Regions from separate parts of the Homo sapiens genome. Here region 2 is linked to region 1. The links come from fine-mapping of genetic effects on gene expression. Tissue or cell type: whole blood. Region 1 holds a variant in brackets; the other region holds the start of a gene. All regions are shown on one strand. Distances are between the middles of the regions. Region 1 overlaps LINC01374 (long intergenic non-protein coding RNA 1374). Region 2 holds the start of LINC00865 (long intergenic non-protein coding RNA 865).

What was found.
Region 2: LINC00865 starts here. The variant in region 1 is fine-mapped to the expression of LINC00865 in whole blood (TOPMed, PIP above 0.99).

What each region holds. Positions count from the first base shown.
Region 1 is chr10:89,879,699-89,896,002 of GRCh38, reverse strand. All of the region lies in intron 1 of LINC01374 (long intergenic non-protein coding RNA 1374), which reads right to left. Among named protein-coding and RNA genes, the nearest start is that of LINC01374, 34 kb to the right of the region's middle. The variant G/A (reference allele first, on the strand shown) is at 7,109.
Region 2 is chr10:89,819,341-89,835,644 of GRCh38, reverse strand. LINC00865 (long intergenic non-protein coding RNA 865) reads right to left here and starts at 6,152. Exons shown (of 4, transcript NR_038382.1): 1 at 5,900-6,152; 2 at 5,341-5,675; 3 at 388-444. LOC105378424 (a long non-coding RNA gene) reads left to right here and starts at 4,824. Exons shown (of 3, transcript XR_946196.3): 1 at 4,824-5,613; 2 at 10,323-10,462; 3 at 11,879-12,125.

The sequences.
Region 1 (16,304 bases):
ATACTAAGGGAATTTGGCACTACCAGACTAGTCCTATAAGAAATGCTAAAAGGAGTTCTAAATCTTGAAACAAAGGTCGGTATGCACCAGAATAGAACTTCTTGAAAGCACAAAACTCACAGGACCTATAAAACAGTACCATAATGAAGAAAACAAAGTAACTAGGTAACAATCAACATGATGACTGGAACAATACCACATGTCTCAATATTAATGTTGAATATAAATGAACCAAATGCTCCACTTAAAAGATGCAGATTGGCAGAATGGATTTAAAAAAATGGTCAAACAAATATCTGCTGTCTTCAAGAGACATACCTAACAATTAAGGGATTCTTATAGACACAAGGTAAAAGATACTCCACATAAATGGAAACCAAAAGTGAGCAATAGTAGCTATCAGGTAAAACAGACTTTAAAGCAACAACTAAAGCAACAACCATTTAAAAAAGAGACAAAGAAGGTCATTATATAATGATAAAACAATCAATCCAAGAAGAAGATTTTACAATTCTAAGTATATATGACCTAACTCTGGAACTCCCAGATGCATAAGACAATTACTACTAGACCTCAGAAAACAGACAGACAACAACACAATAATAGTGGGGGACTTCAGTACTCCACTGACAGCACTAAACAGATCATCAAGACACAAAGTCAACAAATAAATACTGGATTTGAATTGTGCCCTAGAACAAATGTACCTAACAAATATTTACAGAACATTCTACCCAAGAATTGCAGAATATACATTCTTCTCATGAACACATGAAACATTCTCCAAGATAGACCATATGATAGGCACAAAACAAATCTTAATAAATTTTTAAAAATGAAAGTCATATCAAATATCTTCCCAGACCACAGTGGAATAAAACTAGAAATCAATTTCAAAGGAACCCTCAAAACTGTACAAATACATGGAAATTACACAGTTTGCTCCTGAGTGATTTTGGAGTTAACAATAAAATCAAGATGGAAATTAAAAAGTTCTTCAAAATGAATAATAACAGTGACACAATTTGTCAAAACCTCTGGGATACAGCAAAAGCAGTTCTAAGGAAAAAGCTTATGACACTAAATGCCTACATCAAAAAGTCTGAAAAATCACAAATTGACAACCTAATATCACACCTCAAGGAACTAGAGAAACAAGTATAAACCAAACCAAAGTTATCAGAAGAAATAACAAGGATCAGAGAAGAACTAAATAAAATTGAAACCAACATATGATCATCTCAATAGATGCAGAAAAAGCAGTCAATAAAATCCAGCATCTCTTTCTGATAAAATTCCTCAACAAACTAGTTATATATATATATTATATATATATTATATATATATATAATATATATATATAATATATATTATATATATAATATATATATTATATATATATAATATATATATGATTAATTAAATGAAAACTTGGTTCTTCTAAGGATAAACAAAATTGATAGAACCATTAGCTAGTTTAAGCTTAACTAGAAATGAAAATGGAGATATTACAACCAACACCACAAAAATACAAAAGATTATTTGAGACTACTATGAACACTTCTACGCACATGAATTAGAAAACCTAGAGGAAATAGACAAATTCTTGGAAATATACAATCCTCTTAGCTTGAATAAGGAAAAAATAGAAATCCTGAACAGACCAATAACAAGCAGTGAGATTGAATCATGAACAAAAAATTCACCACCAACAAAAAAAAGCCCAGGGCCAGATGGATTCAGAGCCAAATTCTACCAGACATTCAAAGAAAAATTGGTACAGTCCTACTGAAACTATTCCAAATGATTGAGAAAGAGAAAAATCCTCCCTAACTCATTCTATGAAGCCAATATCACCCTGATACCAAAGCCAGGAAGGGACATCCAAAAACAGAAAATTACAGACCAATATCCTGGATGAACATAGATGCTAAATCCTCAAGAAAATACTAGGAAATAGCACATCAAAAAGATGATATACTATGATCAAGTGGGTTTCATCCCAGGGATGCAGGTATGGTTCAACATATGCAAGTCAATAAATGTGATTTATCACATAAACAGAATTAAAAATGAAAACCATATGATCATCTCAATAAATGCAGAAAAATCATTCAATAAAATCCAGCATCCTTTCTGATAAAATTCCTCAATGTACTAGTCATATAAGGAACATGCCTCAAAATAATAAAAGCTATATGTGACAGACCCACAGCCAACATCATGCTGAATGAGGAAAAGTTGAAAGCACTCCCTCTGAGGACTGGAAAAAGACATGGATGCCTACTTTCACCACTTGTATTCAACATAGTACTAGAAGTCCTAGCCAGAGAAACCAGGCAAGAGAAATATATAAAAGGCATCAAAATTGGAAAAGACAAAGTCAAATTATCACTGTTCACCAATGATATGATTGTATACCTAGGAAACACTAAAGACTCTTCCAAAAGACTCCTAGACCTGATAAACAAATTCAGCAAAGTTTCGGGTTACAAAATCAATGTACACAAAGTAGCACTGCTATACACCAACAGCAACCAAGCTAAAATCAAATAAAGAAGTCAATCTATCCCTTTTGCACAGACGAAAAATACATAAAATAAAATACCTAGGAATATACTTAACCAAGGAGGTGAAAGACCTCTACAACAACTCCAAAATACTGCTGAAAGAAATCATGGATGACACAAACAAATGGAAATACATCTCATGTTCACGGATTGGAAGAATCAATATCATGAAAATGACCATACTGCCAAAGCAATCTACATATTCAATGCAATCTCTATCAAAATATCAATATCATTTTTCACTGAATTAGAGAAAATAATCCTAAAATTCACACAGAACCAAAAAAAGAGCCTGAATAGGCAAAGTAATCCTAAGCAAAAAGAAGAAATACCAAGGCATCACATTACCTGACTTCAAATTATGCTACAAGGCTGTAGTAACCCAAACAGCATGGTACTGGTATAAATGTAGACACATAGATCAATGGAACAAAAAAAAAGAGCCCAGAAATGAATCCAAATACTTACAACCAACTAATCTTTGACAAAGTATACAAAAGGCACCCTATTCAATAAATTGTACTGGTAAAACTGAATGGCCACATGTAAGAAAATAAAACTGGATCCCTATCTCTCACCACATACAAAAATCAGCTCAAAATAGATTAAAGACTTCAATATAAGACCAGAAAACATAAAAATTCTAGAAGAAAAACTAGGGAAAACTCTTCTGGACATTGGCCTAAGCAAAGAATTTATGCCTAAAACCCCAAAAGCAAATGCAACAACAACAACAAAAAAATGGGATTTAATTCAACTAAAAAGTTTCTGCACAGCAAAAATAATAATAATAATGATAATAATAATAATAGAGTAAACAGACAACCCCAGAATGGATTTGCATCCAACAAAGGACTAATATCCAGAATCTACAAAGAACTCAAACAAATCAGCAAGAAAAAATAAATAATCCTAGCAAACAGTGGGCAAATGACATGAATAGACATTTCACAAAAGATGATATACAAATGGCAAAGAAATGTAAGAAAAATGCTCCACATCACTAATCATCAGGGAAATGGAAATTAAAATTATGAGATGCCACCTTTGGATAAACACTTCCCTAATCCAAAGAGCCAGAGTCACTTCTCCTTTGAATCACGAGAAACTTCAGGTTACCTGATTCCACAAAGGATCTGGGTCAGCTTACAGAGACTCCAATCAACAAAACTATAAAAGGTTTATTTTTCAAGTAAAATCCTAGGGGTATGTGCATTAGAACAGGTGGGTAAGCAGAAGGGAGAAGGACTATTGAGAAGGACAAAAGCACAGGTAAGCTGGCTCTAGGATGCTACTGTATTCCGGCCAGGTTTGAACAGGAAATTTAGCTCTGTGTTTCCAGACAGCAAAATCAAAAGGAAATGTGGTTAAGTATATAATACCTATTGCCCATAATATATCCATTGTTCATTTTTTTCTCAAGAGAAACAAAAATTTTTTATCACTTAGCCTTACATGCATTATCAAACTGCAAGTGCATTTGGACAAAGGTGTGTCTTACACATCTTTGAATTTCCAACAGCACCTAATGCAGTGCCTCGCCTCTAGCAGGTGATAATTAAATAACTATCCAATTAAATTTAACTCCTTTTATTTATTCATTCAACAGATATATATTGTACATTTACTAAGTGCCTGGCACTGTGCTAGGATTGCAACAACAGAGGCTCTTCTTCTCACACAGCTTATATTCCTCAAATACTCCTTGGCATCAATTATCCTAGGGAGAATACAACATTGAACACTTCTTATGACATGAAATTCTATAAGCTTGCCAAAATCTGTCTTTGTCTATTTGTTTGATCATGTACATTTAGAGAACAGAGGTTACAAATGTACCTGGAAGCTGAAGTCATGTTTTCTTTGACCCAGTGGGTGTTTTTAATTGTTTGCCAGTTGTGACGGTTTATTTTATGTGTCAACTTGGCTGGGCTATGTTGTGCCCAGATATCTGGTCAAACATTATTCTGGGTGTTTCTATGAGGGTATTTTTGAGCAAGAGAAACCTTGAGCAGAGTTTGAGTAAAGGAAGTTTCCCCCATGTGAGTAAGCTCCTTCAGAAAGACCAGTATTCCCCAGGAAGAGAGAATTCCCCAACAGACTGCTTTCAGACTTCATCTGCAACATTGGCTCTTCTGGGTTCTGGAGAAGACTGCCTTTAGACTGAAAGTAGAATGTCAGCTTTCCTGGATCTCCAGTCTGCCAGCTCACCCTGCAGATTATAGACTTGTCAGCCTCGATAGTCATGTGAGCAAATACCTTAGAAATTAATTAATTAATTAATATCCTGTTTATTCTGTTTCTCTGGAGAATTCTGACTAATCTACCAGCATTTAAAAATGGGAAGATTTCAGGCAAGAATTTATATTTCTAGCCTACATCAGTCAGAGTCCAACCTCAGAGAAAAGAAATAACTCTGAATCTTTGACACACGAAGTACATAATGGAGAAAATTGGTCATATAGGTGAAGCGAGAACTGATAAACAGGGAATTGTGAGGGAGCATAGAGATTAGCAACAAAAGGAAGCCACTGTCACATCGAAACGGGAGAGAGAGGAGGAGGCAGATATAGGGTGTGAAGGAAGGGATGAGGAGAGAACTAAGGTCACTCAGTGGAAGCCGGAGTTGTAATAGGCCTGTCTCTCAAAAGCTAGCGTCATTTTGGAGATATTTCTGTTGCTGGAGGCATTGTTCAAGGCTGAGAGGCAGGGTTAGAAACAACCAAGTTTCTCCCTTTTTCCTCACCCCCATCTCCCACCAGTGCCTCCCATTGGTAGGACCCAGACAGAAGCCAGCTGAAATGGAATCTGGAAACCGCAGCCTATAGGAGTCAGTCTGCACAATTTAAAGCTAAGCGGTGGGAGTGGAAGAATAGACTTAAGGGCAAAAAGATTGACTTCTGAGCAGTCTCCCCTGAAAAATAAGATATTACAACATGAGCCTTGCAATCTTGCTCACACCTGTGGGCTTGAGCTGAGTAGTAGCTGTGTCCCTTAGCCTGGGCACACTCTCCTCAGTTTGCCTTAAGTTGAACCTGCCCATTTTCTTCCATTAAGTTGCCTGCCTAGACCATACAGGCCTCTGTCACAGAGACTGGAAAACACAGAATACTGAGGCTGAAAAAGTGCTATGGATTGAATGTCTGTGTGTCCTCTCAAATTCACATGTTGAAACCCTAATTCCCAATGTGATGGTATTTGGAGGTGGGGCCTTTGAAAGGTAATCAGGTCATAAAAGTAGAGCCCTCATGAATGGGATTAGTCCTCTTATAAAAAGAGACAAAAGAGATGAACTCTCCCTCCTTTTCTCATGTGAGGATAAGCAAGAAGATGACTATCTTCAAACCAGGAAAAGAGCCCTGTCTTAGTCCATTTAGTGTTGATATAAGAGAATACTTGAGACTGGGTAGTTTGCAGGGAAAAGAGGTTTATTTATCTCATAATCCTGCAGGCTGTACAAGAAACATGGCATAGGCACCTGCTCAGCTTCTGGTGAGGGCCACATATTACGTCAAAAAATGGCAGAGAAAGTCAAAGGAAAAGTAGACACATGCAAAGCAGAACTAAAATCAAGAAGTATTCTGGCCTTACAACAACTCACTCTCTCAGGAACTAATCTGTTTCTGCAAGAACTAATTCCATCTTACTAGAGCGAGAACTCACTACCAGGAGAACAACAATAAGCCATTCATGACAGATCCTCCCCCATGGCCCAAACACTTCCCAACAGGCCCCACCTCCCCACACTGCCACATTGAGGATCAAATTTCAACATGAGATTTGGTGGGAACAAACAAGCCATAACCAAGCCATAGCATTCTGCCCCTGGCCCCCCAAAATTCATGTCCTTCTCACATTCAAAACACAATTAGACAATTTTCTCTTCTAATAGTTCCAAAAGTGTTCACTAGTCCCAGTATCAAGTCAAAAGTCCAAAGTCCAACATCTCATTTGAGACTCAAGGCAAGTTCCTTCTAGCTATAAACCTATAGGGAAATTTACATTTTTCCCCTTAAGATTCAATAATTTGAGTCTATAAAACAATCTGATACTAGACAGATTAGTAGGAAAAAGGCATTCAAATTTTATGACATACATATATGTGCACAAGAGTCATATAAAATATTAAAACTCAAAGAAATGTAAGAGGGTTGACACTTTTATACCATCTTGAGGTTACAGAAGAAATGAGGGCTCTAGAGCATGGCAAAATAGGTTATGGTAGCAAAACAGGTTATGGAAGGAAGAGAAGAGGAAACACCTTACTAGCAAAGGGGTCTTACTATGCAGATGAAACCTCACAGGTAGCAGCCTTCAGAAAAAAATAAATCGTAGCCAGCAGTAAATATTTCTGTCAGAGCTTTAAATTGTCAGACTCTCAATTCATCTTTCCCAGGTCCCAACAAGGGGGGCTTCAAAGAAAGCCTGTTTCTATCTGTTGTTTACTTCACTTCATTTCCTCCACAGATGCAAACCTCTCCCTCAAAAGTCAGTTTTTCATCTGTTCTGGTGTCAGCATCTGCTCAGTTTCTGGTGAG[G/A]GTCATATGCTAGGTCTAAATATAACATAGAAGGTTAAAGGAGAAGTGAACATACACAAAGAGGAAACAAACCCAAGCATATGGGTTCATCTTGCCCACTGCCCAAAAAAGCTATTGCACTAACAGCAGGTTTTTGTGGCAAAGGACTTATGATTAACACAGGGCTAACCAAGATGAAGCTTATTACTCAAATCAGCCTCCCCAAGAACTCAGTCTAAGGTTCTTATGGATAACTTGTGGGGGGTGGGGGGGTAGGGGGGGGTGGGGGGGGGCTAGGATAAGAAATCAGGTGCTACTGATTGGTTAGGGATGAAATTATAGAGGTATGGAAAATGGTTCTTGTGCACTGAGTCAGCCTCTGGAAGGGGGTCACAGGACCAATTGAGTCATCAGGCATGGGTCTAGGTGAAATCAATTTGTCACCAGAATACAAAAATCTAAACAATCTCAAAAGACCAATCTTACATTCTGCGATAGTGATGTTACCTGTAGGAGCAATTGGTGAAATTACAAGTCTGTGGCCTCTGCTTCATGACTCCTGAGCAGTAAGGGATTATAGGAAAACAAGCTAGGAAACAACAGCTGTTTATCATTTAACTATACTTACATTTTAGCAGAATTCAGGCCCCTCTCAGAATACTAATCTTGTGACCTTTCATTGTCTTACAAAGACTGTTTCAGTCTCCAAACAAGGAGCGGATCAGTTTTAGGAAGCGACTATTATTATCCTTGCTTCACAATTAAACTGTAAACTAAATTCTTCTCATGGTTAGCTTCGTCCATGCCCAGGAATGAGCGGAGACAGCCAGCCTGTGATGCTAGAGGCAAGACGGAGGCGGCCATGCCAGACTTCTCTCACGTCATAATCTTTGCAAAGGCAGTTTCACAATGGTTGTCTTGGTTTTATAACAACTCACTGTATCAGGAACTAATTCAGTCTCATGAGTACTAATCCTGTCCCACTAGAGCAAGAATTTACTGCTGAAAGAACTGCACCAAGCCATTGATGATGACCTAAGCATCTCCCACTAGGTTTTCCCTCCCAACACCACCACAAGTTTTAACATAAGATTTGCCAGGGATAAACAAGCCGTATCCAAAACTAGCACGTCCCCACCAGGAGCCAAATCAACAACACCTTGATCTTGAGCTTCCCAGCCTCCAGAACTGTGCAAAATAAATGTTTGTTGTTTAAGTCACCCAGTCTATGGTATTTATTATAGCAGCCCCCAAACGGACTCAGAGAGGGAAACTGAAAGATCATCTAGTCCAATCTAGGTACTTATCATATTACAGAGGAGAGAGTGAAACCCAGAGGGAGACAGATTTACCTAATTTGATAGGTGGCAGAGCCAAGCTGCTCTTTCAGTTTGGTGTTCTTTCCTGTACACATCTATCTGTGGAAAGGGGAATTTAAAATTCTCCCTCTAATCGCAGAGACAGTTCCCTGGGGAATGGCTGTATTTTAAAATGCAAAACAACAACCTAGACTTTTGAATAACAAAACGATTGGTTTAAATCAGGTGGAAAACCTATTTACAAAATGGGTTTAATATAAAAAAAATCTCCAAAACCTGATCTGAAGGAATTTTGCCTTCGTGTTTTTTTTCTTTTGCTATGTCTGAACATATTCTTTTTCCTTTAAAGTGACTTTAGAAGGAATACCTAATGAAGGCTACTACAATGATGCTTTTTTATGAATTAAAATAGTTGTTTCATTGTTTTGGATGACTACACTGGTTCTCTCGGTATCTTATTCTGTTAGGTGCTCTAGCTTTTATCTAACTCAAAAGAAAATAGGGAGGGGGAATCTTTTCTGGATTACCATATGCATTTGTGTCTTTTTCTGTCTTTCCCATATTTCATCACACAATTGGAGGAAAAATAATTTGTACAGCTCAGTAATTTGAATTTTAGAGCAAGTGTTCTGAAACTTCAGACTTACCAAAGAGGTATGAACTGGGTTTAATTGAATCTTAGTTGCTTAAGTAGGTTGAGGCGTTAATGTTTATCTGATTCTTCATCATCTGCTCCTGTTTGGACTCGTAAGCCTCTTCTCTAAATTGGTTTACTCCTTTCTCAGCACAGAGATTTGCCAGGAGAAATTTCTGGAAATTCAGCAGCAGGTGTCAGTGCTGCAAAGGTCCATCCAGTCAGGTAATCTCACAGCTTCCTCTCTTCTCATATCAACTGCAAACTATTTATTATGTAGGAAATATATGCTAATAAATATGGTAATCCATATCAGTTTTAATTATTTTAGTTTGCTTCACTATTTCAATAATAAAACATTAACAACCATTTGAGTTCACTAATTCTAGATTTCCAAAAAGTGATTCCTAGAATTTTAAAAGAAAAATATTTGGTTAACAACAATATTTCATGTTAGAAGAAAAGAAGGAAGAGATTCTGTCTGGAGGAAGAAGATTAGTTTTGGATTTTTTGTTTGTTTGTCTTCTCAATATATCTCTTTTTCTTAGGGTGAAAAGCTTATGTCATTTATAAAAATGAGGTTACAAATTAGCTCACTGGTGCTCATCAGTAGTTTATTAGTCTCAATCTTATTAATAATCATACTGTTCTTTCTGGGAAGCTAATAGCAAACTGAAGATCACTTTGAAAGATAATTGGCTTTGGCTTAGTAACAAAGCCATGTTTATAGATGTCTCTGGAAAAAAAGAAACCCACACACCATCAAATAATATTAGAGTGTCATGGTCCTTATGGCCAGATTAAGACTACTTCCAGGTGTCTCCCTTCCTCAGTAAGCTTCCTGTTTCCCACCAAACCAAAACCAGAACATATTGCTGACCAAAACACAAACGGTTTATATCCAGCCTGTTCTTCCTGAACAGTATCCAACTTTATTTGGAAGCAGAAATTGCCTATTCTCTGGAGATGAGTTGTGATTAGCCAAATCAATTCTGTTCCTCACTTTCCCAGTCTCCTTGCAACTAAATATGGCCCGGTGATATAATCCTTGTCTAGAAAATATATGTGAAGGTGGCCTGATAAAGGATCTTACATGTCCTGCTCCTTCCCCATTTTTCCTGATGGCTGGACCTATAGCAGCCATCTCGTAGCCGTGAGGCAACCAACAGGAGAATGAAGGTGTACACGCGAAGAATAACAGTTCAGAATGATAGAAAGTAACTGGGTCCCTGATGGGAGAGTTGAGAAGATGAGCCTACAACAGTAACCACCTACCCCTGGAATGCCAATAATGTAAAAACAAAAATCTTAATAAATTATTGGTGTAAGCTACTGCTGGCGTTTCTAACTGCTATAACCTCCTTTTCCCAGGAAAATCCTAGAACCTTTGTCTGTGACACTATTCTTCCATTTACTCTGATAAAAATAAAAGAACAAAAACATCTTGTTGTCCATATTCTTACACCATTAAAACAACATGCACAGGGTTAGGATTTTCATCAGTTTGACAATTTACTAAAGTGTTTAATTTACTTCTGTGCCAGAAAAATCTTGTAGCTGCATCCAAACTGATTATTTATAACGTGAGATGTTATTTGAATGACAGTGTATTTTATTTTCCAATTACATTTTGTTTAAGAGGTAAAATATCCATTTATAAAACTACTGCTGCTATAAAATGGTTTTACTATTAAAATCTAGATCCCTTAATTTATTCATATAGAATCCATTATAGTATACAATTTGGATGGACTGGGGTCATAATAAGAAGTCTCTTTTAATATCAGAAACAAACAATAACAGAAGCAGATTTAATCTGTCAGCCTTAATCTTAAACTCCAGATAAATTCTGCTTTACCTATCTCAAACAAGTGAAACAAGAGTGATTAGAAGTTAATAAAATCAGTATGTAGTATAAAATAGATGCTAAATAAAGTTAATGAGTCAAGATAATATAATTCTGACTACACAGGATACTAGTTTATAGTATCTGAAGTTTCAGCAAACAAGTTGAATCCCAGCTGAGTTCCAACCTAACTATATGTACTTAATGTTCTTTAACATATAAGTTCAGGTATCCAAAATAGATAAATGAGAGCTAAAATAATAAACACTGTATAATTATTTCATACTCTTCCAAGGTTTTCATAAAATCTTTAATTGAATCCATCACAAAATTATTAATATATAAACTGGTCAATTCAAGTATCTAGTTTCACTATATCTTTTCATTACAGTAACCAGTTGCTAGATTGAAGTGTTTCCCACATAAGATGTTTCTTATGTAGAATGACTTGATAGGAGCTATAAAGAAAGGTTATGTAACATAATGGGCAGTGCACATACTTCAGAGACAAAATAGAGTTCATTCTTTGCAATTGATCACTGTGCATCCTTGGGCTAGTCACTTAATTTTACTGAGCTTCAGTTTCCTCCAAGGTTGAATCGAGATCATACCTACCTTTAAAGATTGTTGTGAAAATCATTTTATAAATAAGTATCCTGTCAAACTACAAGCCGGTGAAACCCTAATTTTATGATGCTAAAAATTAGTTGGTTCTGAATCACTTAATGCCTATATGAAATACCTGCAGTATAGATTATATGCTTGTAGCAATTCAAGTCCTAATAGAAAAAACCAAAGAGGCATCTTGATACCTTAGAAACATCTGGATAGACACAGATGAGAATTGTAAAGCACCAGAATGTCCTGAGACCTCTGAGGTGACAGAATCAAATCCCTTCCCCTTGTAAGAGAAGAAAAGCTTCCTCCTCCTTGGAGGGAGATCTTATAAAAATGTCATCAGATATTTGTCCTTCCCAATATTCACCCTCTTTTCCCCTCAACATAAACCCCTAATGCTACTACATACTGGCAGGATTTAGAGGAAAATGTGGGAGATAGAGCTGAGGGATGTTGGACAAGGAAGATAGAATATAAGTTTGGATAGAAGCAAGTGTATTAACATAGGAGTACTTTTCTATGATTCAAGGCTTAATATCATACAAAGCCTTTGTAACTGGTCATAATACGCTGCTGGGATAGGCTTGACATGGCAATGTCCTAGAATAAAATATATGGGGATGCTGAAACTGTGTTACTGTATTTTGAGGAAATGGTCAAAAGGCTTATGGAAGTGGAAGTGTTACAATATATTTATGAGAGCCTAAGAACCCCCCCACATGATTCTGTTCTCCAGAAGGATCCAGAGGACATTAAAGAATGCATTATTTATTTTCAGATATGGGAACAGCAGCATAAAACTATAATCCCTACAAGTGAATTGCGCCCTACAACTGATCCAGCTTATTGCTAGAAGCAGTTTCCAGGTTACAGCACAGGGAAGAGTACCCAAATAGAGCCCAGGAGTCTCCTTGAATTGAACAAATAGAAACTAAACTTTAGGGAAATTAAGACAACTAAAATGTGTAGGACAAAATACTGAAGAGGTAAGAGCTTCACAGAGGGAGACCTCTGGACTTCCACAGAGTGATCCCTTTGAGTCTTTGGCTGAGTACTGATCAGTACCTTTTTGTGGTGACACCTCACAAGGCTAGAGAAAGAAACACCGGACAGAAGTAGGATGAATAATTCCTGGAAACTACAGCAAGAGTGGAGAGATATCACCACCCCATCAGCCAGACTGAAGAGACCTTGTAATACATTGAGCACTGGGAAGCCTTGTGAGAAGAGTATTACCTTAGCAGTGACTCTAAGTTAGCCCTGACTGAAGCTTGTCTGGACCCACCCTAACAGAGCTTACAAACAAACCACTAAAGAGTTAAACTGATCCTAAGTAAATTGACTGAACGAAGCCTGATACTCTTTAAAGAAATACAATAAAATTTAATACCTAACAATATGAAATTTACAGTGTTCAGTGACCAACACACAAGGCATGTAAAGAAGCAGGAAACATGACCCATAACAATAAGAAAAATCAACCAATAGAAAACACTCAGAAATGGCAGAATTTAGTAATAGGATAGTAAAACAGCTATTATAAACATGTTCCATATAATCAGAAATATAAAGGAAAACATGAATATGGTCAAAGAGATACAAAGAATTGTATTCAAGTTACAAGATAAAGTCATCTTTTCTCTTCCAAGCCTCATGGTAACCTCAAATCTAAAAACAGACAATGGATACACAAAAAAATAAAAAGCAAGACATTAAAACATACCACCAGAAAAAAATGACCTTCACTAAAAGGAAGATAGGAAGGAAGGAAAAATGAAGAGAAGACAACAAAACAACCAGAAAACAACAAAATGCAGGAGTAAGTCCTTACTCATCAACAGTAACATTGAATGTAAATGGTCTAAACTCTCAAAACAAAAGACACAGACTGGCTGAATGAATCAAAAAGAAAAAAAAGACCCAATGAACCCAGTGACTTTTTGCCTACAAAAAACAGACTTCACCTGTAAAGACACACATGGACTGAAATTAAGGGGGATGGGAAAAGATAGTCCATGCAAATGGAAAACAAACAAACAAAAAAAAAAAACAAGAGTAATTATACTTATATTATATTAGACTACATAGCTTTCAATAGAAAAACTATAAAAACAGACAAAGAAGGTCATATAGTGAAAAAGCAGTCAATTCAGCAAGAGGACATAACAATTTTAAATATATATGCACCCAACAAAGGAGCACCCAGACATATAAAGGAAATATTATTAGAGCTAAAGAGAGAGAGAGACCTCAGTACAAAAATAACTGTAGACTTCAACACCCCACCTTTGGCGTTGGACAGATCATCCAGAGAGAAAATCGACAAAGAAATATTGGACTCATTATGTACTATAGACCAAATGGACCTAATAGATATTTACAGAACATTTCATCCAATGGCTGCAGAATACACATTCTCCTCAGGACATGGATCATTATCAAGGAGAGACCCTATTTTAGGCCACAAAACAAGTCTTAAAACATTCAAAAATTGAAATCATATCAAGAATCCTCTTTCACCACAGTACAATAAAACTAGAAACCAATAATAAGAGGAATTTTGGAAACTATACAAACACATGGAAATTAAACAATATGCTCCTGAATGACCAGTAATCTAGTGAAGAGATTAAGAAGGAAATTTTAAAATTTCTTGAAACAAGTGATAATGGAAAAACAACATACCAAAACCTATGGAATACAGTGAAGGCAGTAATGAGCTATAAGTGCCTACATCAAAAAGGAAGAAAAATTTTACATAAACAACCTAATGATGCATCTGAAAGAACCAGAAGAGCAAGCCAAATGCAAAGTTAGTGGATGAAAAGAAATAATAAAGATCTGAGTAGAAATAAATAAAGAAAACCATACAAAATATCAACAAAACAAGAAGTTGCTTTTTTGAAAAGAAAAATTGACAGACCTTTGGCTAGCATAGCTAAGAAAAAAGAGAGGACATTGAAATAAATAAAATCAGAGATGAAAAAGGAGACATTACAACCAATACCACAGAAATTCAAAGGATCACCAGAGGCTACTATAAGCAATTATATGACAATAAATTGGAAAACCTTGAAAAAAAATGAATCAATTCCTACACACATGAAACCTACCAAGATTGAACCATAAAGGAATCCAAAACCTGAATAGACCAATAACAAGTAATGAGATCAAAGCTGTAATAAGTAGTCTCCCAGTAAAGAAAAAGAACTAATACCAATTCTACTCAAACTATTCCAAAAAATAGAGGAAGAGTGAATACTTCTAAACTCATTGTATGACACCAGTATTACCTTAATACCAAAACCAGAGTCATATCCGAAAAAGAAAAGTAAAGGCCAATATCCCTATGCAAAAATCCTCAACAAAATGCCAGCAAACCAAATTCAACAACACATTTAAAAGATAACCTATTAGGACCAAGTGGAATTTATCCCAGGGATGCAAGGATGGTTCAACATACACAAAGCCATAAACGTGATACATCACATCACAGAATGAAGGACAAAAACCATATGATCATTCCAACTGACGCTGGAAAAGTATTTAATAAAATTTGTCATCCCGCAAGATAAAAACTCTCAAAACACTGAGTATAGAAGGAACACACCTAAACATAATAAAAGTCACATACAACAGATCCACATCTAGTATTATACAGAATGAGGATAAACTGAAAGCCTTTCCTCTAAGATATGGTATACAAGGTTGCCCACTTTCACCACTGATATTCTACATATTACTGGAAGTCTTAGCTAGAGCAATCAAACAAGAGAAAGAAATAAAGGGCATCAAAATCAGAAAGGAAGAAGTCAAATTAACATTGTTTTTATGATATGATCTTATCTTTGGAAAAACCTAAAAACTCCACACAAAAAAAAACTATTAGAACTGTAATAGTTCTAATAGTCAGTAAAGTCAGTAAAGTTGCAGGATATAAAATCAATATACAAAAACCAGTAGCATTTACATATGCCACAGCAAACAATATGAAAAAGAAATCAAGAAAGTAATCCCATTTATAACAGTTACAAATAAAATTCAATATCCAGTTATTAACCAAAGAAGTGAAAGATCTCCACAATGAAAACTATAAAACACTAATGAAAGAATTTGAAAAGGACACCAAAAAAATGGAAAAATATTACCTGTTCATGGATTGGAAGAATCAATATTGTTAAAACTTTCATACTACCCAAAGCAATCTACAGATTCAATATAATCCCTATCAAAATACTAATGACATTCTTCATAGAAGTAGAAAAAACAATCCTACAATTCATATGGACCACAAAAGACCCAGAATAGCCAAAGCTATCCTAAGCAAAAAGAACAAAACTTGAATCATATTACCTGACTTTAAATTATAGTACTGAACTACAGTAACCAAAATGGCATGGCACTGGCAAAAGAAAAAAAAAAACAGGCATATAGACCAATATAACAGAATACAGAACCCAGAAACATATCTTTACCTCTACAGTGAACTCATTTTTGACAAAGGTGCCAGAACATACACTGGGGAAGGACAATCTCTTCAACAAACTATGCTGAGAAAACTAGATACCCATATGTGGAAGACTGAAACTAGACCCCTATTTCTCACCATATATTAATTTTAAAAAATCAAACAGATAAAAGGCTTAAGTCTAAGACCTCAAACTATGAAACTACTACAAGAAAACGTTGAGGAAAATCTGCAGAACATTGGTTTGAGCAAAAATTTCTTGAGCGATACCACACGAATACAGTCAACCAAAGCAAAAGTGGACAAATGGGATCAACTAGAGTTAAAAAGCT
Region 2 (16,304 bases), 60 kb after region 1:
TCAGATTGGGACCAGTGAATGTCCTATCTATAATATTACTAGACTGATTTCCTTCTGTGGCTGTGATCCACAGTACCAGAAGGAAATTATAAAAATATAAAAATGTTCCATTTTGTTTGTAAGTGATTTAGCCTTCTGAGAAAACTCAATGATTAATATTTATTTGGGTATTTGTTTAAATATTATTGTCGACATGATAAATTTTTTATAAAACGTGTGTGATATATGTATATATGTAGGTATAGATATGTATGGATAGACACATGATAGATAAGACACTCAAACACTGACAATATCATTATATCATTTGACACTCATCTTGATCCAGCTATAACTAGAGCTAAAAAAAACTCTTGGAATTTCCAGGTATTGAAACAAATAAATTACCTTTTGTGTTTCAGCTAGTTTGAGATGACTTTCTGTGTCACTTGTACCCAACAGAGTCTGGAATAAAAAAAAAATTTAAATATTATTGATACTTAACATTTGTTTATTCTATTTGGACTTATAAATGGACTTATATGAGAGATTTTTAATTAGTATCAGAAGTAAATGAGTTAATAAAAACTGAAATGATTGTAGATTTATTTTTATAACTTTTATGTCTACAGCTATGATAAATTTTTATATTTTAAATTTCTATATATACAGTTTTTTTGTTTTTTGTTGTTGTTGTTTGTTTGTTTCTTTTTTTTTTTTTTGAGATACAGTCTTGCTCTATCACCCAGGCTAGAGTACAATGGCATGATCTTGGCTCACTGCAACCTCCACCTCCCAGATTCAAGTGATTCTCATGCCTCAGCCTCCCAAGTAGCTAGGATTACAGGCATGTGCCACCACGCCCAGCTAATTTTTGTATTTTTGGTAGAGATGGGGTTTCATGATGTTAGTCAGTGGATCTTGAACTCCTGGCTTCAAGTGATCTGCCCGCCTAGGCCTCCCAAAGTGCTGGGATTACAGGCATGAATCGCCACACCCCAACATAAATTTTCTATATTTTTAAGGTATAGTTTCTCCTAATGTGTGTAGGTAGGACATAATCATGCTTTACAAAAAGGAGAGATGTTCTGCTGGATTTTGAAAAATTATTTTTAAGTTCCAAGCAAGACAGGTTCTATTTGTTCCTGGAAAGGTAATTGTTTTGACATAGATTTAATGTCATTGTGTGAAGAAAGAATATATTTTAACACTTAAGCTACTTATATGTGAGGAAAAGGAGTAAGGAAGATAAGTTTTTGATTAAATAAATATAGTAATAGCATAAAATTAAGGCTCAACTATGCATCAGACTCTAGGGCTGATACCATCTTATCCTTAACACAGACATACCACACACATAGTTACTTTGCCCTAAGGATTCTAGAGCACTAAAATAGTGTATAAAAATGTATATAAGGCCAGACACGGTGGCTCAAGCCTATAGTCCCAGCATGTTGGGAGGTCAAGGTATATGAGGTCAGGAGTTTGAGACAAGCCTGGCCAACATGGAGAAACACATCTCTACTAAAGATACAAAAATTAGCTGGGCAGGGTGGTGTCCATGTAATTCTAGCTACTCAGGAGACTGAGGGATGAGAATTGCCTGCACCCGGGAGGCAGAGGTTGCAGTGAGCAGAGATTGGGCCACTGCACTCCAGCCTGGGTGACAGTCAGACTCCATCTCAAAAAAATAAAAAATAAATGTATACAAGAATGTTATGAGACACTTCCCACTAATCATCAGAAAATGAACATGGACATATACCTTTACTCCCTCCCATAGCTCACTATAAGGATCCTAAAGATATTAATTTAAAAGGTCAAACCACAGAATGAATAGAAGTGGCAAAGAGACAACAGCAATACAATTTTGGAAGCAACAATGCAGATGTTTTATTAGCAGTTTTTAGCAAAGATGAGAAAGCGAAAACCTAAGCCAGCAGTGGCAGAAATATAAACAGAGTAGTTTCTGCTGCAAATCCCTCAAAAGCCCTGAATTGGAGGTGGCATGTGCCCAATGGTGGAACAGGTAAGATGAAAAATAGGGGAACTGGAAGTCTCAATACTTAGCAGTCCATATCCACTCCCCACTGGCAGTAAACTGGTTTATTCTCCAGAGATGTCAATTCAGCAAAGCTCTGGACTTTAGGACCAGAGTCGCCCTAAAGGCAGTAAGACTGTTCTGAAAACCAGGGAGCAAGTGACAGGGTACATTCCAAACAGACTATTTGACCCCCTTATCGATAAGGATCCCAGAATATTGATGGCTAATTTAGGGTGCAGCATTCAGGCTTGGTTTATTTTCTTCTTTCTATATGTTTTTCATTCTTTACAATGAACATATATGATGTACGCAGTTTTAAAAAATCTAGGAGGTGAATAATTTTCAACCCAGAATTCTATATCCAGCCAAACTATCTGTTGTGCTACTCCAAAATATAAAGGATTATTGAGCTGCAGGTAATTAAGAAGAAGCAGATGCAGAGAAGCTCTCTGCCATCCCTCTATTTGCCTAAAAGCAGGACATACAAAAACTAAAAGTATTCTGCCTCCCTTCTACCAGGGAGACCAAAAGATAACCACATAAGACAACTTTAAACTGTTACCACCTGGAGATGATACCAGGGAAATCTCCATTAACAAACATTACTAGCTAGCCTTTATTTGCTATGCATTTGCCTTCCCACAAGTTGCCACTCCTAAAGTTCTTTTCCTTTACCTCTCCAGAAATTTGCTGTTCATTATTGAAGATGCTATATCAGCCAGAATTCAAAGCCAATTCTGAGAACTACTCATTCCCTGGGTGTCTCTGGTGTATGTATGAAATACACATGTTAATACACTTCTGTTTTTCTCTTGTTGATCTGTCTTGTATTACAGAAGTTCATTTCAACTAAGAACTTACTGTTGAAGAAAATGATTACTCTTCCTCTATACAACCAATTATGAGAGTAGATTGAAACATTTATCTCACATGCAAGGCCTCATATTTACCTCCAGACATGCTATAGCAGAGCCTTCTGAAAGATGCACTCTATCAAAATGAAGGCGTACTACCAGAAAGAAAACCAGCCACATATTCACAGAAATAGGGGATCCAATATATGAGAGAAAAAAATTGAATTGTCAGGATAACAGTAAGAAAACATCTCAGGGCCTACAGAATAAGTAGTCCAGATTGGAACAGGAGAAAAGAGGGGTTCAGAAGCAAAGAATGCCTTCCGTAGGGCCGACTCATCCATTAGGCTGAGTAGGCATAGTGCTTGAGGGCCCATGACGCTGTTAGGAATTTACAAAAATGTCGTCATTTTAATTTCCTTTAAAATTAGGAGATAAAATTAATATAATAACAGTGACTATATGATAATAAATCCACCCTGATCATATTTACCTTTATACCAACGTGGCTGTAAAATAATTTTTATTTTTTATGGAGGAAGGAGCTCATGAAGGCAATGTACCTAGGACCGTGGCCTCCAGGAAAAAAAGGAAAATAAAAGAAACTGGATAGTTTCATTTGAATGTATCAAAAGGCACTTAAGACTTGTCAGAATTTGGCAGAATGAACTGATAATAACTACTTAGAAAACTAACTAAACAAAAATCAAGGCAATGCATAGTCAAGGAAAAACAAAAGCAAAGGTCTACAAAAAAGAAGTAAACCTAATACACTACAAGTTCATCTGTGAATAATATTTACATTGTCAAAATAAACACTAAACACTGATAAGATTTTTAAAAATATGATATTGCAAGATTAAGAAATGAAAGAAGAAGCTACATGCCCAGTTGTAAGACAGCCAACTCCTCATCTTTTGTAGAAGAAAGGCAATAGATAAGAACCAAACTGAAAAATAAATAGTATGAGAGGTATATTATAGGCTTGTGACAGTAAACAATAGAAAAAAAAACAGTTAAAAGAGATGAAAGTTGTTGCCTTTGGAGAGTGAGAATCAGAGATGGAGAAGAGTGGATAATGGTGTAATTTGCATTACATGACATACAACTTTTTGACTTTATGAACAAGAACCTAAGTTACCTTAATGAAATTTACAATTAAAGAACTTTAAGGATTGTTGAGAGTTAATATAATTAAATGAAGAATTTTCTACTTTTCTAAGTGTTTATGTATTAATTTTTTTAACATTTAAGAAGTGTGAAAAATGATTGAATTACATGGTAGCCTACTTAGATGCCATGAAAGATGTGCTCATGGGACATTAAAGAGATTGAGTAGACTGTGAGGCCAAAGTGAAATTCCAACCTGATGGAAGTGAACAGGGAATACTTCAAAAAGAGAAGAATGACTGAAAATGAGGAAAGTGAAAAATGCTAAAACTGGTTAAACAGAAGGGTCAGGAACAGTCAATATGTTATAGTCAGTATGGAAGAATACAATATACATTATGTATATGAGCTTTTCATGAGAAGACATGGGGGAAGAGTTAAACAATAGAATAACAACCATAATATTTTATTAATAACTATTATGAGCTGCTAAAATGGCATATATTTGGTAGGATATTAGTATATAAAAAAGGCTTGAGGTATTTAAAAATCTGTTCCCAGAAAATTATCCCCAAAAGTCAAAATATATATTTCATAGTTCTTTTAAATCCCTGACTTTCCAGCCACATATTCATACCACAATGCTGCACACTAAGCTGTAGATGGTTGAGTGATATGGTTTTGAAAAGATAATAAAAGAAAATTGAAAAGACACTCTTAGGTAAAACAAAAAGAAAATATTTCTCTCAGACAATTTAAAACTTAGGTAGTATAAGATAATTAGGGTTTTTAAAGAAGTCACTTTACAGAAGAAAGGAAATAAAAATTTTGCTGACCATGGCATATTTAAGAAAAAAAATCCAAGCAAAGAGGGGAAGAGTTATGATGAGCAGTGAGCAGTGAGGTATAAGCCCAACACTTTTCAGCCCACTGAAGTGTCCTGCCTACAGAACTCAAGGCAATTTCAGACTTCCTATCGACTGACATAGGTTTGGGGGTGCGGGAAATGACTCAAATGCTGCCCAAAATATATTTTTAAAAACTTTTTCCCTGATAAGCTTTTTAAGCCAGATAATGAAACCAAGTTGTTCGTGTTTCATATTTGAGAATCTAAGTACTGGATAAATAATAAGGGCTATCAATTATTGGGGGCTTTAATAATTCTTCAAACATTTAATGAGTGTCTTCTGGGTGCCAGGCGCTGGGACTATAGCTGTAAACTAAACAGGTGGCTACCTCCACAGAGTTTATAGTCTAAGGATTAAAAAATTAGACCTTGCACAATAGTGGGAGGAGACGGGGAAGTAAGGCCACCGTTGGAAGGTGGAGAATTGGAGAAAAGTCTCTATTCACCTCTCCTGAAGTAGTCAAGTGAAGGAAAAGTCACAGGTTACATATAGAGAACTGGGAACATCCAGTTGCAAGAGTGAGACCACAACAGGAGCTGGCGAAGAAGTGCATGGAAGGCTGTTGCCTCTGCATTGACTGTGGGTTTGGGGCTGCTGTTGGTCAGCAAGGCAGGCAGAAAAGGACACCAGCTGGAGTCAAGACAGAGGCAGGCGAGGACAAGCTAGAGCCCACAAGCAGTACATCTACACTTCTCTCCTTCCGCACCAGCTACACAGAGTAACGGTTACTCTTTCACTTCTGCTTCCCAAATCTGGCATAGATATATCTTTTGGCCAAACCTGATATGGAGACATAATGGAAATGAAGTTCTAGCTTAGGCCAGTTGATACAAAACCAGCACGGTCCATCCCTTGTCAAATTGGCGGCCGAGAGCACCTCCTTTTACCATATTTAATTTCCAGTAGCAAAATCTTGCTTCAACCTAAGGTGCAACTAACCCTGCTACAACTAGAAACACCCTAAACCTCTCTCCAATGAGGATATGAAGTCCCGTAGGACTTACCGCATAGGTCACTTTATCTTTGGGGAAAGTTCATCCTTTTCTAGCTGAGTCACACTGCCCTTTTAATATCCTGAGATACATGCTGAACTACAATACTATTGACACGTTTTATGTTCAATAGTAGAATGGATGGAGGAAGAGAAAGAAAATGAACCAGTATTATATTTGCAAAATGAAAATCAATCCTTCTGAAATATTTAAACGGTTTCTGCCTTTGTAGGAGACCGTTTGGTAACGTATCGAAATCCATAACGGCCGTGATTGGCGCGCAAGCGCGGGGCTGCCCAGGGGCCCTCCTTGCCTCCCGCCTTATGGGCCCGGAAGGTCCTTCTTTCCCCTAGCTTGGACTCCAGCTCCTGCCCGCGGAGCTTGGTCTAGCTGCGGGAAGCATTGAAGCACAAGGAGAGTACTTTTGCACAATGACCTCCAAATTTTACTTTGAGGACTTTATCATAGTGAAACTACCATGGCTGTAGCTTATATCGGTTTTTTTTTAAATGAAAATAACCTAATTATGCAACAGCGGGAGGGTTGCTTGAGTAAATTATTGTTAACTCCAAATGACAGAATAATGTATGAAACAATTAAAAATAATTTGTTAAAACAATGAATGACTTAGAAAGATTTTTATTATTAAGTGAGAATAAAAGCAGAAACCTAAAAGATATATTCAGTATGAGCTCATTTCTGTAAAATGATGTATTTTACAGAGGAGAATAAAGTTTAAAGCATGCAAACCAACGTGGTAACTGTATTAAACCTACTTAATAACAAGAAGCTATTCATAGTAAATAAGTTGAATTTATAGAAAGAAATTTACTATGAGGACAAAAAAGGATAAACAGGAAAATATTTGCAAAACAGATAATCTAACGTATAACCAGTTCCTTCAATTAAATAAGAAAATAAGAATCCAATAGCAAAAATGAGGACATGTTTAGAAAAAGAAATAAAACATTTTAAACATGTGAAGTGTTTTATTTCATTTCTGCTAAGAAAAAGCAAATTAAAACAAAAATCTAATATTATTTTAACCATCAGAAAGCTTGACACATTGAGTTGACAAGAGTAAAGGAAAACAGGCATCCCGATATATTGCCAGTGGGAGTAGAAATTGCTGACACCTCTATGAAAAAAATACGCAAGCCAAAATTTTCAATAATGTGCCCCTAAACCCAACAATTTTACTTTAAAGTGTAGACATTCATTGCAGCATTTTTTATAATCTGAAAAAAACAGAAACAAATGTACAGATAAGAACTGGTTAAATAAATTATGGCAAAGCCATACAATGAAATACTCTGTGATGATTAAAAATAGTAAGGCACTTCTTCATGCAATTATATGGAAAGATCCCCAATATATATCAAGTAAAGGATTTTAGGTATATAATGGTATAATTAAACCCTACCATTTTTGTAAAAATAAAATATGTGTGTATACACACATATCAGGTATGCACACCCACATTCCTATATGGGCATAAAACATCTCTAGAATGGAACAACAACAAAAAATTGATAAATTGCTCCCTCTATAATTTTGAGGAAGCTCCCAACAGCTAATTAATTTTTGTTCTTTGCCCTAAACCTGCCCCTTTTTTCATTTTTTTCATTTCCAAAAAGGTACTACCATTGATTGTCTCAGAAAAGTAGAAATGAGATTTGTTCCTTCTCTTGTCCTCACCCAACCCCCATTAAATCAGTTATCAAATCCTGCTAACTTTATTTCCAAAACAAGTCTCAACTTTATCTACTTGTATTACAGATGTTGGCTATTTATCAACGTTTTCTGTTCCTTTCAACCTTAGTCATAGACGTCCTGATTTTCAACTAGACCTGTAGTAACCTAGAGTAAACATTTTATTGTCTATCTTCCATTGTAATCACATGGGGCCATGCTACTGAGTGCTTTCCAATGAGCTGTAACTGCAAGCATCACGTATAATTTCTAGAAATTCTCTTACAGGAAAGGGATGTATCTTTTTTCCTCCCTTCATCATTCACGTTGTCTGGGATGAAAACAACATGACTGGAATTAAAGCAGCCACCGTCAATGAGGAGGTTGAAGTCACGTATTGACAAAATGGAAGGAATCTGGTCCCTAAGAATGGTGGAGCCACCAATTGAATTCTAGGCTATGTACAGATTTCAGTTATGCGAGAGAGGAATAAATATCTGTCCAAGCCACTGTAATTTGGAGTTTCAGTTACAGCTACTCCAAATCCCAAATGATAAAATGTCTCTGTATTTCAATGGCCAACCACCTGACCAAAGCCCAGTCCATTTCACCTGAACTGCTGCAACAGCTTCCTAACTGTTCTATCCACATCCCACCTTGACCTCTTCCTCTGCTGAATTCTCCACACCTCAATAAGAACATGCTTGTAATATATATATGTATATATACGTATATATACATATATATGTATATATACATATATATGTGTGTATATATATATATATATATATATATGATCGAATCCTCCCTTTTTTTTACAATCCTTTAAGAAATTCCCATTAGTTTTAGAGTAAGTTTAAATTCTCAACATAGCCTATTCAATCTTACATTGTCTGGCTCCTAAAACTTCAGCTCATCCCTCGCTGCTTCCCCCCCTCACTCACTGGGCTCCAATCACATGGAAGTTTCAGATATCCTGTGCCCTCTACTGTTAGATTCACCTTAAATCTTCTGTCTCCAGTCCCTACTGCCTACTAAGTCTACTAATCAAATCTTTCGGGTCTCTGGTAAAATGCAACTTCCTCAGGAATTATAGTCAGGAATCATGACTATACTTTCTCATGACATCTTGGATTATGCCTTATAGTCCTTATTTCCTGCATGGTTAGCATGGTTATTTGTGCAATTATTCCTTTAATGTAGAGGTTTCAAATGGTATGTAGGACTAATCTGCTTACAGATGCATTCCATGGTCCACACAGTATTTCTTTTGAAAAGCTTTAATCAGTGCATTCTCTTTTTGGTTTGTCACACTTCCCATCAATTCACACCATTTCACAAATTTAGGTCCCTTTCCTGCCTCCTGCAGGCCTTTGCACATTTGGCCTGCCTCTCCTACTAAACTAGAGTCTCCATGAGGGTAAGGATGGTGCCTGTCTTCCTCATCACTCTATGCCCACTATCTGACATCCTTAAGACCTATCAAGGTGCTCTGGAAATCCTTGCCTAAGGAATAAAGCCAATGAATGAGCTGTTTTCATTGCCATTATTAGCAGCCTTTTTCTTCCTTTGGTTTTATTTTTAATACCAGATACCATAAGTAGATAAGTGTGGTGGAAGTATCCATTTGGTAACTATTTCACATGAAATTTTGAACAAATTTAGCACAAGACTCTGAACCTTAAGGCAAACTTTCACTTTTTATCCACTGGACTAAATAGAAAGTAAATTCATATAGTTACACTTTTGAATTTTGAGAAGTTTACAAAAATATTTCATCCAGGCCATTCTATTTCTATTCCCTAGGAGTTAGGCACCTCACTGACAGTGCCCCCAATTCTCCAAAGGCTTTTTAGCTCAAGGTTTAAAAAATGAAATGTAACTTTTAAAAAAGCAATCTGTCCTCCCTGATGGCAACTCCAAAAAATAAACCCAGATCACACTGCTTAAACGTTTTATGACAGCAAACATTGTGCTTAATACAAAACAGGAATTTTCAATTTGTCAATAATAAGAAAATGAAGATGCAAAACAAAATGTCTCTGTATTTTCCAGATATTTTATTTTTATGTTTCATATTTTCTTATTCTTCAAAGGGACAGAAGTTTGAGGTTTTGTATTTATTTTCTAAAGCTGTGGCCTTCTATATTTTGACAGAAAGTATTAGGGCTGAGTTACTTCTAAAAATTCCAGGTTCTCCACTCTTATAACACATTTACATTGACTTGAAAATTTTTCATTGCACCTACACACACATTTTTTGTAGGTTTTCCTCACTTGGTGAAGACTGCAATGTTGTTAATACCTCTGAAGCATTTTAGAGTTACCCAAACTCTAGATGAAAATTCTACAATAAGGAAATTCAGCAGGATGCTAAATAAGCAATATTGCTCTTTCTCTATAATTGTTGTCAAAATGTTAAAAGCTAAGCCTTCCAGCCAAAACAAAAAGAAATGATAATTTTCTGGATTGGATCAATGGTCCATTCAGGCCAATAGCATCTTCAACAATTCATTTGGGAGGTGATTTGCCCCTAACTATAATGTTAACAAGAACAGTGTTTCTCCAAGCATTTCAGAGTCTCTTAATCATGGTTCTTTTATTTGTGAATATATAAAAACATTTTTAAACTCATAATATTTCCCTTGACTTACTGTCCACCAGAGGAAGTGGTATTTTCTCTTACTTGGCTTAAGCATTCTTAAGCTGCAAAGGTAACTAACTACTCTCTCTTGTGTTCCAGGATTCAGTGAAACGGTCTCTATTGATAGCCAGATCAGACTGTGAATGAATGACCTTTTAAAACAGCCAGGTGTTTATCTCCCAGTGCATCCTTCCCTCTCTTCAGGATAAATCTTGGACAGTTAAGCTTATCCTCATGAGGTATCCTTCCCATGATATTTTTCCTGAAAAATTCCACTTGGCCTTTGAGAAGTGACTCACAACCATCTAAGGAAAAAGATACTCCAAAACAGGGCTCCAACTGGGTGGGCCTAGGCCATCTCAATGTCTCCAGTCCAGATCAACAAGGAACAGAAATACTGAGGGGTGGAAGAAATGACGAAGAAGCAGGGAGGAGGTTGGTAAGCAGTAGGCAGGTGAGGGGATCCACATCCACTGGATTGATAAGAAAGTTTGATTCCACAGCAAATACACCAGTCTAGAGTGTTCACAAAAACCCTTCAGACATTTTAGTTATGGGCACTGTCAAAGTTTGTTACAATCTTGCTTCAAGGACAAAGGCCTCCAGTAAGCCAATCAGAAATATTAATACATTCTTCATAAGAACATTTGATAGGAAAATACAAAAAGAAGAGAATGTTTGTTAAAAGCCACTAGATTGTTGAATGTCATTCAGTGGGGTAGATAGGTGACTGGTTTCCTAGAACAAGACTTTGGTCCATTAATGTTTTCCAGAATATTACTTAAGCATTTTGTCAGGAATGTTAATTTCTTCTCAGAATGAGGTTGCAAATTACATCATGTAAAAAGATTCCTTCCCACACCAGGTTTGGGGCAACTTCTCTTTTATAGTAGTCAGTTTCAAGGCAGTGACCAGAATTCATATGACAGTCAAGAATTGGAAACAATATAGCAGAGTGTGAGTTTTGCAGTCAAACGGACCTGAGTGGTGAACCTTAGTATTAGCTGATTCATGTGTAAAATGAGGGTAAAATAATAACTACCTTGTTAGGGAGGAGATACTAATAAATACTATTTCATTCTTGTTATTTATTTTCTCTGAATTTTTACAATTGATCACTTTTATATTAATCATTTTTATTCATCATCTTAATAATAAAAAATATTTGTTATTATTTTAAAGCATTATTATTTAAACATATTTATTATTTTTATGTGCTCATAGCAGCCAGGATCTGTATCTCCACATATCATTGCCTATTTCAAGGTCCTGAGGTAAGGTTTTAAAATTTAGAAAACACTTGAACACCAGAATCTGTTAGGCAATGTTATTCAAACACTAAGTTCCCCACACTATGGAAGTCAGGCAAAGTCCTAGACCAAATACCATTCTGAGCAAAGTTTTCACATACAAAATAATGTGTTAGTAGAACTAACTGTCTCTTCCCAGTAGCCCATTGCCATGGTAATCCACCAGACAAAATAGGATCGAAGAAAATATTTCTAATGCTTTCTTGTTCCAAGGCCTTGGCTTGCAATTTTGTCTTCTCAATAGACCATTAGCAAGTTCGTAGTGCCCTGTGCCAAACATCAAAAATTCAGATAAACTCAGGTTTATGTGTCAGTCATATTCTTCCCTTTTCTACCTTCAACCAGGGAATCCATGTGACCATTTTCCAGCCATTCTGGGAGTCCTCTGAGCAGCCAGAACAGAAGCATGGCCCAGCCTCCCCACAGCTGAGTCAGGCCCTTATATAATGAGTCCTATTGTTCCTCAATAAAAGCAATTTCTGTATTTCAAGATGTACGTCAAAGAAACATTTAACGGCAACTCAAACACTGCATTTTTCAATACTGGGTTAAATTCTTTTTTTTTTTTACAATCAGTAATTCATTTACTTCACCTGTATACCTATCACAACAGTCAATCCACTGTTTCATAATTCCTTGTTTGATCATCTGATGCTCCTACTAGCCTGTGAGCTGGGGGGCCGGGAGAGAGTCTGCCTTGCTCAGTGCTTTACATCTGCAGCCCAGCACAGTGCCTGATGGCAAAAGCACAAAGTATAAGTGATCAAATAAATATTCTATTATAATTGATTACTTGAAATTGTGAAAAACAAAATTCACCAGACAATTAAGGAGATGATTTTATTTAGGCTGTTGCAATGAGGAGAATGTTCATTTTGTGAAAGAAAGGGAAGGGGTTCTGGGCTTTTATAGAGTTGGGTAGACAAAGAAGCTATCCTTGAATCATGAGGAGGGATGGAGACAGTTCCTACCTTGGCAAGATGCGAGGACAAGGTATTCTTTTGCAGTTAACCATTTCCCGGGATACAAAAGAATGGGCAAAATTCTCAACAGGTGCTGCTTTCCAGAAACACAAGGCTCAGATAAAGTGCAACATTATCCAAATTAAATATGTAAAGCATAAAGCACAGAGACTAAGAACACGCAATAGCATGATAGGCACTTCTAGCTGGATAAAATGGTTTAGAATAAACAGAAAAGGCAACCTTTCCCTGGACACAATCACTAGAAGTTTCCTGGTGGCAGCTGCTCCCAGGAGTGTCTGAGATCCTTGCCCACTTCTCACTCCAGGCTGACCGCTAGGTTCCCAAATGTCAAAGACCCTCACTTGTCTCCTCCCATCACTCTCACTGCCTACTTCTCAGGTCATGTCCCTTGGAGGCTTCTTCAGTATCTATCACAGTGCCCAAGCTGTCCTGTATAGTAGGTGCTCTCCAAACATATAAATTATATGAACTTACTTATATTATATATTTATTTAGTTATATAAATTTTAATTATATGAGTTTAATTTAATAAACATATAAATTATATGAATTTAATTTAATTCAATTATATGAATTTAATGAATGCATGGCCAAGAGCTGAAGTTTTGGAAAATCTAATGTCATACTGATTATCATGGTTTTCTGTCTTCACGGAGAAAACAATTACATTGGCGAATCTCTGTGACGGCAGATTTGCTCCACCCTGGAGTCTTTTTCCTGTGTCATATTTTAGAATCATCCTTTTAAAATATTTTGAATTTTTCTGTTCTAAATGCATTACACTGCACATGTCCACACTTAAGAGGTCCATGTCGTCCAGGCACAGTGACTCATGCCTGTAATCCCAGCACTTTGGGATGCCCAGGCAGCAGATCACCTGAGGTCAGGAGTTCGAGACCAGCCTGGCCAACATGGTAAAACCCCGTCTCTACTAAAAATACAAAAATTAGCCAGGAGTGGTGGCACGTGCCTGTATTTCTAGCTACTTGGGAGACTGAGGAATCAGAATCACTTGAACCCGGGAGGTGGAGGTTGCAGTGAGTAAAGACTGCGCCATTGCACTCCAGCCTGGGTGACAGAGTGAAACTCTTCTAAAAAAAAATAAAAGTCTATGTTTACTGCTTTCCTACATATTAGAACAGCCTCCTAAATTTTCCCTGCATTGGTACTCATCCACTTAGCTTTTCCATATCCAGAGTAGTTCAGCATTAGCTGCAGACTTTGGAGATTTCACTGTGTGAGCCCTTCTCTGGATCATTTATAAATGTTTTAAATAAGATTGAGCCAGACCAATCCCTGAGGAACCCCACTGTGTTTACCCTTTTCCTTCCAAACAAATGTGCATTTCTACTGATTCACTTTGTTTCCTGTCTCTAAGCCAGTTCTAAATCTGTGACAAGATACCTTTACCCATCCTATGATGACAACAATTGCCATTAAGCAATACTTCAGAGGTCTCACAAAGAACAAAATGTCACCGGGGATACAGAGGCACTTTGTAGTGTGCTGATGTGACACTACCCTCCTCACAGTGCCATTTAAGAACCACTTAACACAAAGGTTAAATATTGTCCCTACAGAAATTCAGGCACAACAGATGATCAACAGATCTGGGATGCAACAGAATATTTCAAACCCAAGTTTCAACAAGAGTATTTATTTCAAATAATGTCAGCTTTTAGTTTAGTAGATGAGGTTTCAGAATTCTGAAGACTTCAGCATGAAGATATGTCCATTTAAGAATGTTGCCTCTTTTGGAATGAGGTTTCAAGCATTGTTTTATAGAAACTTTGGGAGGCTTTGCATGAACTTAAGACTTTTAATATACATGAATGGAAACAAACACTCTTTGGCTCAGTTTCTACCTGTGCTAAATTTGGTGTTCGTTAATTCTTCAGTATTCACTAAGGAATACTCAAGAGCTACTCTTGTACAGAGCCTTTTCTGCTATCTCCACTACAATGGAAACTTCTCAGACTCTAATTACCTGTTCAGAGTTTTTTGTTTGTTTGTTTGTTTGTTTGTTTGTTTTTTAAACAAGGTCTCACTCTGTCGCCCAGGCTGATGTACAGTGATGTGATCTCAGCTCACTGCTACCTCCACCTCTCAGGTTCAAGTGATTCTCCTGCCTCACCCTCCCAAGCAGCTGGGACTACAGGCAGGCACCACCACACCTGGCTAATTTTTGTATTTTTACTAGAGATGGGGTTTTGCCACATTGACCAGGTGGTCTTGAACTCCTGGCTTCATGTGATCCCCTGCCTCAGCCTCCCAAAGTGCTGGGATTACAGGCATGAGCCACCGCACCCAGACCACACACTTTTCTTTTTCTTTTTTTTTTTTTTTTAAGAGAGACAGGATCTGTCACCCTGGCTGCCAGGCTGGAGTACAGTGGCGTGATCATGGCTCATTGCAGCCTTGACCTCCTAGGCTTAAGTGATCCTCCCACCTCAGCCTCCCAAGTAGCTGGACTATAGGCATAGGCCACCATGCCTGCCTGATTCTTTTATTAGTTTTTGTAGAGATGGAGTCTCACTATGTTGCCGAGGCTGATCTCAAACTCCTGGGCTCAAGTTATCCTCCTGCCTTAGCCTCCCAAAGTGCTGGGATTACAGGAATGAGCCACCACCCATGGCCTGTTTATATACTTCTTAACAACCAGAATAAAACATTTTTTATGATAGGAATCACAATGTATTCATCTCTATATCACTAGAGCCTGACTAGTAGGTACCTACTACATATTTGAAAAAATGTGTGAATGAATGAATGTATAAGTGAATGACTATCCCCAGTAACCACCCCACTTGAAATAGGAGCCATGAAATGATATATGTTAAAAATATTTAGGTGTTCTGGAAAAAACAAAAAACAAAAAGCAAGGGAGATTAAAGGTGGGGTGTTGATATGGCTTGGCAGTGTCCCCACTCAAATCTCATCTTGAATTGTAGCTTCCATAATTTCCACATGTTGTGGGAGGGACCCAGTGGGAGGTAATTGAATCATGGGGTCAGGTCTTTCCCTTGCTGTTCTCATGACAGTGAATAAGTCTCACGAGATCTGATAATTATGTAAAGAAGAGTTCCCCTGCACAAATTCTCTCTCTTCCCTGACGCCACGTAAGATGTGCCTTTCACCTTCTGCCATGATTTTGAGGCCTCCCCAGCCACATGGAACTGTGAGCGAATTAAGCCTCTTCCCTTTATAAATTACCCAGTCTGTGGTATGTCTCTATTAGCAGCATGAGAACAGACTAATACAGTAAATTGGTACCAGGTAGTGGGGTACTGCTGTAAAGATACCCCAAAATGTGGAAGTGACTTTGGAACTGGGTAACAGGCAGAGGTTGGAACAGTTTGGAGGGCTCAGAAGAAGACAGGAAAATGTGGGAAAGTTTGGAACTTCCTAGAGACTTGTTGAATGGCTTTGACCAAAATGCTGATAATGATATAGTCAATGAAATCTAGGCTGAGGTGGTCTCAGATGGAGGTGAGGAACTTGTTGAGAACTGGAGTAAAGGTAACTCTTGCTATGTTTTATCAAAGAGACTGGTGGAATTTTGCCCCTGCCCTAGAGATCTGTGGAACTTTGAATTTAAGAGAGATAATTTAGGGTATCTGGTGGAAGAAATTTCTAAGTGGCAAAGAATTCAAGAGGTGATTTGGGTGCTATTTAAAGCATTCAGTTTTAAAAGAAACACAGAGCATAAAAGTTTGGAAAAGTTGCAGCCTGATGATGTGATAGAAAAAAAAAAAATTTTCTGAGGAGAAATTCAAGCCAGCTGC